Homo sapiens: one gene and its partners. The protein of the gene in region 1 purifies or fractionates together with the protein of each later gene. This does not show direct contact. Each region holds a gene or a part of one and is shown in the gene's direction. Other genes may lie near its edges. The genes, in order: GSKIP, A2ML1 and HAVCR2.

The links.
Region 2: the proteins of GSKIP (region 1) and A2ML1 purify together in Homo sapiens (affinity purification with mass spectrometry; one large-scale study listed by BioGRID and IntAct). This does not show direct contact.
Region 3: the proteins of GSKIP (region 1) and HAVCR2 purify together in Homo sapiens (affinity purification with mass spectrometry; one large-scale study listed by BioGRID and IntAct). This does not show direct contact.

The regions. Positions count from the first base shown.
Region 1 is NC_000014.9:96,383,929-96,387,583, forward strand, and holds the end of GSKIP (GSK3B-interacting protein), read left to right. Parts: intron 1-695; exon of another isoform or gene 696-884; intron 885-1,594; coding exon 1,595-1,756; 3' UTR 1,757-3,360; downstream 3,361-3,655. UniProt on the Homo sapiens protein: A-kinase anchoring protein for GSK3B and PKA that regulates or facilitates their kinase activity towards their targets.
Region 2 is NC_000012.12:8,850,039-8,853,693, forward strand, and holds part of A2ML1 (alpha-2-macroglobulin-like protein 1 isoform 1 precursor), read left to right. Parts: intron 1-121; coding exon 122-236; intron 237-1,745; coding exon 1,746-1,974; intron 1,975-2,171; coding exon 2,172-2,298; intron 2,299-3,655. UniProt on the Homo sapiens protein: Is able to inhibit all four classes of proteinases by a unique 'trapping' mechanism. This protein has a peptide stretch, called the 'bait region' which contains specific cleavage sites for different proteinases.
Region 3 is NC_000005.10:157,099,003-157,102,657, reverse strand, and holds part of HAVCR2 (hepatitis A virus cellular receptor 2 precursor), read left to right. Parts: intron 1-3,655. UniProt on the Homo sapiens protein: Cell surface receptor implicated in modulating innate and adaptive immune responses. Generally accepted to have an inhibiting function.

The DNA.
Region 1 (3,655 bases):
CTGTGGAGAGGTAGAAGGAGTTCTGATCAGAGAGTCAGCAGTCTTAAATGTGAATTTAAGTGATCTTGAGTGAGTCCGTCTACCCCTGAGAGAGTTTCTGCTTCTTAATCTATAACTTGGAGATTTAAAAAAAACTTAAAACGATTTGGGGAATGATTATATGACTGTATGATACAGAAAGATCTGAACCATATGTAAAACCTGACATGTAGTAGGTGCTCAAATATTTGTTTGTTTTTCAGTCTGATTCAGTTAACATTTATTGAGCAACTATCCTGTGTCAGCAATTGAAAATCAAACCATGCATAAGACATGATCCCTGTCCACCAGGAAGATCACAGTCTAGCAGAGATAAGAGGAAGAAGGCAAACTGAACTGTACTCCACTGTAGAGAGTGCAGTAATAGAGCATGGATCTGAAGAGGTGTGATTCATTTTCCTTAGGTGTCTGCCTCTGCTTTTCATTTAAAAAAAAAAAAACTCAGCTTCTATTTCTAACACAAACTTTCACCTCCTATGGCTTAAATAGATGTCATAAAAATTTAGGATTTATATAGGGAATGTACACACTTAAGTCAGCAAAAACTAAATTAATTTTGCCCTATATTGTGCTGGTGAACCATGATATACCTTATAATCTTGTCAAAAAGAAAAGTTGTAGCTGTGTTCACAGGAAAAAAAAAAAAAGAAAAACACATGGCCTGTCAGCCTTTTGCCTAAGATCAATTGGAGTATCTTTTCTTATCAGTTTAATATCTGTTATGTCCTCTATCTAAGGACAATATATTAAATGGATTTTTGGAGCAGGGAGATAGAATAGGCTCTTGCTCCATTAACTTCACACATCGACCTGGTATTGCAAATACCTCCAGAAATAGTGTACCCCTACCAAGAAAAAAAAAACACATTAACATGTTCTTTTATCTCACAGAATTGAGCATTTATTCCCTGTCAGGTAAGAAATATATTAGGTGAAAGTGGCCTTTCAGATTACTAATAATAAAGCTAAACAGTTATTAAAACTAATAAACTATTAAACCAATTATTAATAAACAATTATTAAAATTAACAACTAATTATTAAAACTAAATTATTAGGAATAATTTTTAGAATTGTTTATAAAAGAAGTGAAAAATAATGAAAAAAATATGAACTAATGATATATTACCTATTATAGTACTTAATATAGTGGACCCTCAATATATGTGGAATTAAATGGGGTAAATAATAGATGCATGTTTTAGAATATGAAAATGAAATACCATTTTTGTGTAGCTTTTCAAATTCTTTCTCTGCATTTCCTTGAGCTTCTAAGTAAAACCTTTTAAATGTTGAAAATTCTATAGGGAGCATTTTAGTGGTGTTTCTGTGTTATACATTATAAGTTGCTGAAGTATTAAAGGTTGTATTTAAAATGTGTATACTCTGACTTTGAGAAATAGTTTCACTCAGTTACCCATGTATCTGGTGGTCTAGTGGCTAGGAAAAGAAATAATTTATTTTTTTGAAAGGATGATTACTCACATAAACACTTGGATTTTGCTTTCTGTACCAACATGAAAACTAATGAATTCACTGTTGCATTTCTCTTGTAGGTGGTAGGCTATGCTTTTGACCAGGTAGATGATCATTTACAGACTCCCTACCATGAAACAGTCTACTCCTTGTTGGATACACTCAGCCCCGCCTACCGAGAAGCATTTGGAAACGCACTGCTTCAAAGACTGGAAGCTTTGAAAAGAGATGGACAGTCATGACTACACTTTTTCCTTTCAGAGGGGCTGGTGCTGGTACAGAATGTTGATATAAAGCTTAAAATTCTTGCATATGGTCATAGAAAATGCATCTTTGGTTTTGTGTTTTTATCACTTGCTTCCAACTTAGGCTTTTGGCTCAGAAGATTATTGAATAATGATTTGTCTTAGTTTCTGTTTCAGTAAGGGAATTCTGAGGCCGTTGCTATGATACCATCATTAAGACATTCACATGTCTTCATATAATATCTCTTCATTTCAAATCCTAATCACTATTTCATACTATTACAGGGCTTTGATGCTGCCAGCACTGTCTTTTACATAGGAAATTCTAGATTTGCACAGTAATAGAGGAATTAGAAGTACCTAACTATACACTTTGATTCAGCCTGCTAAATCAGGGGTTCAATACTAGCTTGGACAAACTTTGTAGTAATTAATTGCTACCAGCCTTATTGGAAACAAATTATCAACTAGTTTCCCCTGCACAAATTTTGAAATTCACTGCTTCACTTAATCTATTTATATTACTAATAATGGATTAATAAAGATGAATTAATTATATATTACTTAACTAGTATTAAATGAAAAACAGGGACTGAAATAGTTCTGTATTCCGTGTTTGCAACAGCCAGCCAACTAAGCAGAGGATAAACCGTTAGCAAATGAATGTAATAATTACTCATTTCCAAGATATCTAAGCACATAAGCAAATACAGGAACAGACTTCATTCTTTTTCTTAACAAAAAAGCATCTTCAGTGTGTGATTTAAAAGAAAGAAGATTCTGGTTTCCTAGAAAACAATATTTTGGCCTGTGTTGATTCTTATTCTGAATGTGTGTTTACATAATGTACAGTATATATTCAGAAAGTATTTTTGCTTCAACGTTTACTTTCTATGATGTAGTGCTTTGGTATTCCTACAGCACCCCACCTTCCCCAACAGATGTACAGTGTTCTGTCTCCATTCGAAATCTACAATGTAATATGAGTGCATTGTATGGGTTTGAAACCAAAGGATGAATGAAGCATTCAGAGACTTAATATTTGAAAAAGGAATAGTCAGTATTTTATATTTTATTACAGGTACTGATATTTATAAATTTAATAAACTGTACCATGCTGCTGCATGTTTTCAAGTACATGTTGAACAGTAAGGATTGGGGAGTTGTTTTTTAATGGTCACCTAAAGCAGCTGCTATAGAAATGTTGAACTAAAATTTTGCATCTGGTCATACCTTCATGCATTTATCATTTGCAGATATTTTTCCATCATTATTAAAAAACAGGAACTTTTAGGCTCTGAAGATCATGTGGACCAGAGCAAATTAAAGTTCAGTTTGTGTCACAATTCATTGCCAGACTTCATTGGAATGCTTTGTTTGATGATGTATGTTCATTCTCAGCTTTATTTTCAGATGCTTAACTGGGCAACGAAGTCTAACTTCAGGTTGAACTTTCTCATGTTTAATCTCAGGCTAAATGTAAATGATATTTGTAAAGTTTGAATAAAATTCTGTTTACTCATTTTGAGTTAGTATGAAAAAAAGTGATTGTATGTTTAAGAATTGAAATTGTTCATTTTGTGATAAATGATTAATTCCAAGAGCTTGTTTCCATTTTTTAATTCTGCATTGTTACATTTGGATTTGAAATGACTGAAGTGAGCTTTCTCTTGTTACTACTATGAAAGAGCAATGAGGAACAAGAGGAGAGGACATTAATAAAACTACACAGATATACATGAGAATCTAGATATTAAAACCTCCATTTTACCTGGTCTGTTTAAAGAACTTAACCAGCAGATAGGCCAGGTGTCGTGGCTCACACTTGCAATTCCAGTGGTTTGGGAGGCCCAGGCAGGAGGATCACTTGAGGCCAGGAGTGCAAGACAGCCTGCG
Region 2 (3,655 bases), on another chromosome or scaffold:
CCTCTGACTGGATGTTCTCTGCTTCCCTCTAAATTTCTTTCTAGTAATCCCTCCATCCCAATTTATGTCACAACAAGAAGTCTCCTGTTTCCTAAAGTTTTCGTATTCTCAATTTCATCAGCAGGCGGTGGTCATCCAGAGGCTTTTGAGTCATCAACTCCTTTACATCAAGCAGAGGATTCTCAGGTCCGCCAGTACTTCCCAGAGACCTGGCTCTGGGATCTGTTTCCTATTGGGTAAGTGATGACTCAAAAGTACAGTAAAGGGCCAGGTGCATGGCTCACGCCTGTAATCCCAACACTTTGGGAGGCTTAGGAGGGAGGATCACTTGAGACCAGGAGTTCAAGACCAGCCTGGGCAACATAATGAGCTTCTGTCTCTACAAAAGAAATTAAAAAAATAGCCAGATGGTAGTTGTGTCCTACTTGGAAGGCTGAGGTGGAAGGATCACTTGAGTCTGGGAGGTGGAGGCTGCAGTGAAGCAAGATCACATTGCTTCACTCCTGCTTGGGTGACAGAGCAAAACCCTTCTCAAAATCAACAACGACAACGACAACAACAAACCCAGAAAAAAAACAGTAAGATTCTGCAATGTAGAGCCTGTAGAAAACTCAGAATCAGACGCATTCCTAATGGATCTAAATCTTAAGCAAAGAAAGCTTGATGGGGTGTGGGAATTTATTTATTTTCCGGAATTCTTTTTTTCTTTTTATTTTTAAGACAGAGTCTTGCTCTGTCACCCAGGCTGGAGTGCAGTGGCATGATTTTGGCTCACTGTAGGCCTCAACCTCCTAGGTTCAAGCAATTCTTGTGCCTCAGCCTCCCAAGTAGCTGGGACTATAGGCACATGCCACCACACCTGGCTAAGTTTTGTATTTTTAGTAGAGGCAGGGTTTTGCTATGTTGGCCAGGCTAGTCTTGAACTCCTGGCCTCAAGTGATCCACCCGCCTTGGCCTCCCAAAGTGTTGGGATTACAGGTGTGAGCCACTGCGCCCGGCCTACCTGAATTCTTCATGCATTCATATACAACCACTCAAAACAAATCCACACAATTCCACACTCACACATTGCAGGCCCTGTGTTCTCACTACAGAACCACACACATTTAAAGGTATATATTGACATCAATTTTTGCTCACTGCTTGCATATCCATTTTGACAAGCCCTGAGACCACACATCCTCAGACTCAGAGGGCACCAGCCTCTCTGTCAGATGTGCTTGCACAGAGATGCCCACCCCGACTCCCCACCATAGTCCCCCTCCTCCGTATGAGTGCAGCCTCACTCACACTGAGACTCACCTGTTCAGTTGCCTCTTTACTTCTCCCCATACAATAACAATAACAATTTTACTTCTGCAGATGAATTTGTAGCTTTTTTTTTTTGGACAGGGTCTTGCCCTGTCACCCAGGCTGGAGTGCAGTGGTGCAATCATAGCTCACTGCAGCCTCAAACTCCTGGGCTCAAGCAATCCTCCTGCCTCAGCCTCCTAAGTAGCTGGGACTATAGGCATGCACCACCACACCTGGCTAATTTTTAAATTTTTGGTAGAAATAGGGTCTTGCTATGTTTCCCAGGCTGGCCTCAAACTGCTGGGCTGAAGCTATCTGCTCACCTCAGCCTCTCAAAGAGCTGGGATTACAAGTGTAAGCCAGCACACCCCACCGAATTTGTGGCTTAATTCACAAATGTTCTCCTTGCCCCACGCTACCTCTGCCTCATGTTGGTCCTTGTGTTTTCACAGTAACTCGGGGAAGGAGGCGGTCCACGTCACAGTTCCTGACGCCATCACCGAGTGGAAGGCGATGAGTTTCTGCACTTCCCAGTCAAGAGGCTTCGGGCTTTCACCCACTGTTGGACTAACTGCTTTCAAGCCGTTCTTTGTTGACCTGACTCTCCCTTACTCAGTAGTCCGTGGGGAATCCTTTCGTCTTACTGCCACCATCTTCAATTACCTAAAGGATTGCATCAGGGTGAGAGCTGGGGATACAGGAATCAGGTGTCAGCCCTGGAATCACACCTCCCCCATAAGTTTGTCTCTAAATTGGAAGCATCCCAATTTTCCCTGGGAAAGAGAGGAGATGTCGGCGTCTCAGCCCCCAGGTTTCCCCAGGCCTCTATGCACTACCTCCTTTGTTTGTACCCTTTGTCTCTTAAACATCCTCCGTAGGTTCAGACTGACCTGGCTAAATCGCATGAGTACCAGCTAGAATCATGGGCAGATTCTCAGACCTCCAGTTGTCTCTGTGCTGATGACGCAAAAACCCACCACTGGAACATCACAGCTGTCAAATTGGGTAAGAGAGGGAAGTGGTAGACGGGCGAGGAAAGCCAGCAGCAGAAGACCAGTGACTGAGCACTCAGTCTTTTCCTCTGCCACATCTGCTTTGCTTCCTCCTCCATTTTCCACTATTTTTCTCCCTCCTAAGGCTGTTATAAGTCAATACACAAACACTCTTTGATAGGTGACCAAACAAATTTGTTCAAACCGGAATATTTTGAGTGTGAAAGGGAGAGCTTTTAATATTTATAGCTGGACAAGGAATACATGGTCATGTAACTAATCAAGGACTTACTATAAGAGTCCCTGGGCCAGGCACTATTCTAACTGCTTTACATATATTAACTCATTAAATTGATTGACTAATTAATTTTTATTTTATTTATTTATTTTTGAGAGGAAGTCTCGCTCTGTTGCGCAGGCTGGAGTGCAGTGGTGCAATCTGTGCTTACTGCAACCTCCACCTCCTGGGTTCAAGTGATTCTCCTGCCAAGCCTCCCAAGTAGCTAGGATTACAGTCGCGTGCCACCCTACCCGGCTAATTTTTGTACTTTTAGTAGAGGTGGGGTTTTGCCATGTTGGCCAGGCTGGTCTCAAACTCCTGACCTCAGGTGACCTGCCTGCCTCGGCCTCCCAAAGTGCTGGGATTACAGGCGTGAGCCGCTGCGCCTGGCCTTTTATTTTTTTTTAGAGAGACAAGATCTTACTCTGTCACCTAAGCTGGAGTACAGTGGTGTGGTCATTGCTCACTGCAGCCTCAACCTCCCAGGCTCAAGCGATCCTCTCACCTAGGCCTCCGGAGTAGCTGGGACTATAGGCTCATGCCACCACCATGCCTGGCTAATTCAGTTGGCAGAGAAGCGGTCTTGCTCTGTTGCCCAGGCTGTTCTCAAACTCCTGGGTTCAAGTGATTCTCCCGCCTCACCCTTCCAAAGTACTGGGATTACAAGAATGAGTCACTGCACCTTTAACTTGTTTAATCCTCACCCCCAACCCTATGGGATGTCAGTCACTCATAGATTAAATCCTTGCAACTCAAAGTTTGATTTTCATATGTATGAGTTATCTCATGTTGCTTGACAAATTATTGTAAAACTTAAGTGTCATAAAAGGACAAACATTATCAAACAGATTCTATGGGTCATTAATCTGGGTGCAGCTTAGCTGGGTACCTCTGGCTCAAGGTATCTCATGAGGTTGCAATCAAGCTGTCAGTCAGGACTCTGGTTTCATCTGAAGACTCGACTAGGAGAGGATTGATTTTTCAAGCTCATCCCAAAGTCTCTGATCCTTACAGGCTGCTAGACTGAAGGACACAGTTCTTGACCTCAGCTTTTGGCTAGGGGCCTCACTCAGTATCTCATCACATGAAT
Region 3 (3,655 bases), on another chromosome or scaffold:
CAGCCTTCCCTTTAGTTTTTGTTTGTTAGTTCCTTCCCTCTAGGGCAACAAAAATGGGAATATAGGAATAATACCTCGAACCTCTGAGCTTCTCAAGGGCCTGACTGAGAAAAAATATTGAAACAACCAAAAATAGGTCAGTAGCTCCTAAATAGGAAAATAAAATAAAAAATTGAAATGAATGAATATTTAATGGTTTGTCTATAATATGTAACATTATGTAAATTGGCTGCTGGCAAACCAACTCTAAATGTGGGATGTGGGAGCATTTAATATAAAAATGGGGCTGGGCACAGTGGCTCACATGTGTAATCCCAGCACTATGGGAGGCCAAGGCAGGCAGATCACTGGAGCTCAGGAGTTCAAGACCAGCCTGGGCAACATGGCAAAACCCCATCTCTACTAAGAATACAAAAAATTAGGCTGAGTGCAGTGGCTCACACCTGTAATCCCAGCACTTTGGGAGGCCAAGGCAGATGGATCACCTGAGGTCAGGAGTTTAAGCCAGCCTGGCCAAGATGGTGAAACCCCTGTCTCTACTAAAAATACAAAAATTAGCTGGTCATGGTGGTGCATGCCTATAATTCCAGCTACTCAGGAGGCTGAGGCAGGAGAATTGTCTGAGCCTGGGAGGAGTGAACCGAGATCTCACCACTGTCCTGAAGCCTGGAAAACAGAGCGAGATTCCATCCCAAAAAAAAAAAAAAAAAAAAAAATAGCCGGGCATGGTGGCATGTGCCTGTAGTCCCAGCTACTTGGCAGGGCTGAGGCAGGAAGATTGCTTGAACTCAGGAGGTTGAGGATTCACTGAGCCGAGTTGGTGCCACTGTACTCCAAACCTGGGCAACAGAGCGAGACCCTTTCTCAGAAAAAAAAAAAAAAAAAATGGAGTAGAGCCTTTAAAAGTAAGAGATCCAAGGGCCTGGAATTTGAACACAGAACAAATGCAACTTGTCTTCTACCTGAAGGAGTAAGGACTGGGTCACAGGTGAGTCCTCAGCTCTAGAGTAGATCTGCTTTAAATCCTAGCTTTCCCAATTAATAGCTGTGTGATCTTGGGCAAAGTGGCTCTCTCAGACTCAGTATCTTCATCTGAAAAATGGGGAAAATAGTAGTACCTACTTATTGTGGTTGAGGATTAAATGAGATTGTATGTATATGGTGCTAAGCACCATGTCTGGCACCTAATAAGTACCAAATAGATGGTAACTACTAAATTTATACACTGTTAAGGCCATCACATCTCACCTCCGCTGCTACCTGCCCCACCAGGCAAATCTTGGTTTCTCCAGAAAGAACATTGCCACTCCCTTCAACTGTCCCATCCATCTTGGTTGGTGGCCAAATCTGTGTGAAAAAAAGCTGTAATGACACAACAGTGCTTGATTTTACTGATCATTTTCATAGCAAAATGAAGTTTTTAAAAAGTTAGTTTTACCATTTTTATCAAGAAAAATAATTATAAGGAGTCTGAAACTGGATTTACATTTAAAATCTTATGTGCACTTAAGATTCATGTTTACTTAGCAGTTGTACTGATGAGGGTCTTTTTTTTATTTTTTTGATATGGAGTCTTGCTCTGTCACCAGGCTGGAGTGCAATGGTGTGATCTCGGCTCACTGCAACCTCCACCTCCTGGGTTCAAGCGATTCCACTGCCTCAGCCTCCTGAGTAGCTGGGACTACAGGCGTACACCACCACGCCCGGCTAATTTTTTGTATTTTAGTAGAGATGGGGTTTCACCATATTGGCCAGGATGGTCTCGATCTCCTGACCTCGTGATCTGCCTGCCCTCGGCCTCCCAAAGTGCTGGGATTACAGGTGTGAGCCACTGCACCAGGCCTGTGGTTTTTATATTTTAAATTTTTTTCTGGTAATTAGGGCAAAAGTAATTGGAACATAATCTTTTTTTCTTCAATAATTTTAGGCTGAGGCTATGCCTTTATAATATTTAAACTATAGTTTGCTAAACCAGCATTTAGTCAAACCCTTTATACACATTAAGGCTTCCAGAAGGTGACAGTGACATTTAAGAAGTTTCAACATCTCTGACTCAGCCATAAAAATGAGTAAGCATGCTTAGTTTTCCAAAAGCTGGCAATGTACTTATTTTTAGAATTCAGTGTTCATGAGGTCAGGGCCTGTGCCCCTCTTGTTTCCTGCTCTGTCCCCTGTGCCTAGAGTAAGGGCATAGTGCATATTCATGGAATGGATCAGCAGATGAAGAAATAAACAAATGAACAGGAAGGAAAGATGGTGAGTGGGTGGCTGGGCAACGTGACCCTCTTCATAATGACAGCACTGAGGTAAGGGCTGGTGAAGGCAGTATAATTAAGAATGTGCATTTAAGGCTATGCAGACCTAAATTGGAAGGCCATTTTGTCATTTGCTAAGTCATGTGACCTTGGGTTAGTCACTTCACTTCCCTAATTTTCAGTTTCTTCATCTGTGCAATGGGACTAACAGTCTCTACTTTAGAAGCGTAGTTCTAAAGTAAGTGCTTCTAAGTATCTCTAAAATGAGCTTCTTCACTGAAAGAGTTTATTTAGCACAAGGCCTGGCTCCTATTACATTGTGACCACAGTGATTATTTTCATTTGTTGGCAACCCTGTCTCCCTTCTCATGAGTAAATGCAAAACTTATTTAAGAAAATGGAGGCTGGGCACGGCACGGTGGCTCACGCCTGTAATCCCAGCACTTTGGGAGGCCGAGGCGGGTGGATCACTTGAGGTCAGGAGTTCGAGACTAGCCTGGCCAACATGGCGAAACCCCGTCTCTACTAAAAATACAAAAATTAGCTGTGTGTGGTGGTGTGCCCCTGTAGTCCCAGCTACCAGGGAGGCTGAGGCAGGAGAATCGCTTGAACTCAGGAGATGGAGGTTGCAGTGAGCAGAGATCATGCTACTGCACTCCAGCCTGGGTGATAGAGTGAGATTCTGTCTCGCAAAAAGAAAAAAAAGAAAAAGAACATGGAGGTTGCAGTGAGTTGAGATTGTGCCACTGCACTCCAGCCTGGGCAACAGAGTGAGACTGTCTCAAAAAAACAAAAAAGAAGGAAATGAATTTTTGTTGTCTTTTAAAATCTAATTAGAATATAATGCCTGAGGCCAAGCCTGGTCGTTCACACCTGTAATCCCAGCATTTTGGGAGGCTGAGGTGGGCAGATCACCTGAGGTCAGGAGTTCACAACCAGCCTGGTCAACATGGCCTCGTCTCTACTAAAAATACAAAAATTAGCTGGGCGTGGTGGTGCATGCATGTAGTCCCAGCTACTTGGGAGGATGAGGGATGAGAATTGCTTGAACCAGGGAGGCCGAGGTTGCGGTGAGCTGAGATTATGCCACTGCACTCCAGCCTGGGTGACAGAGTGAAATTCTGTGTCTAAATAAATAAATAAATAAATAATGCCTGAGTCTTATCAATATTGCTAGATGTTTGTAGAACTCATTAGGGTCCTGTGAAAAAAACAAAGCACATATTTAATGTAGGACTTCCTGGCAGAAGTCTCTATTTCATAAAACAGTACGGTTCATTATCTAGATGAAAAAATGTGGCCATCCTAAAGTTGATTCCTGGGTGTTCAGTAAATTTTGTCTGTCTCTCCATTAATTATTGTGACAAGTACGGAGTAGAATTCATTTCAAATAGGATTAT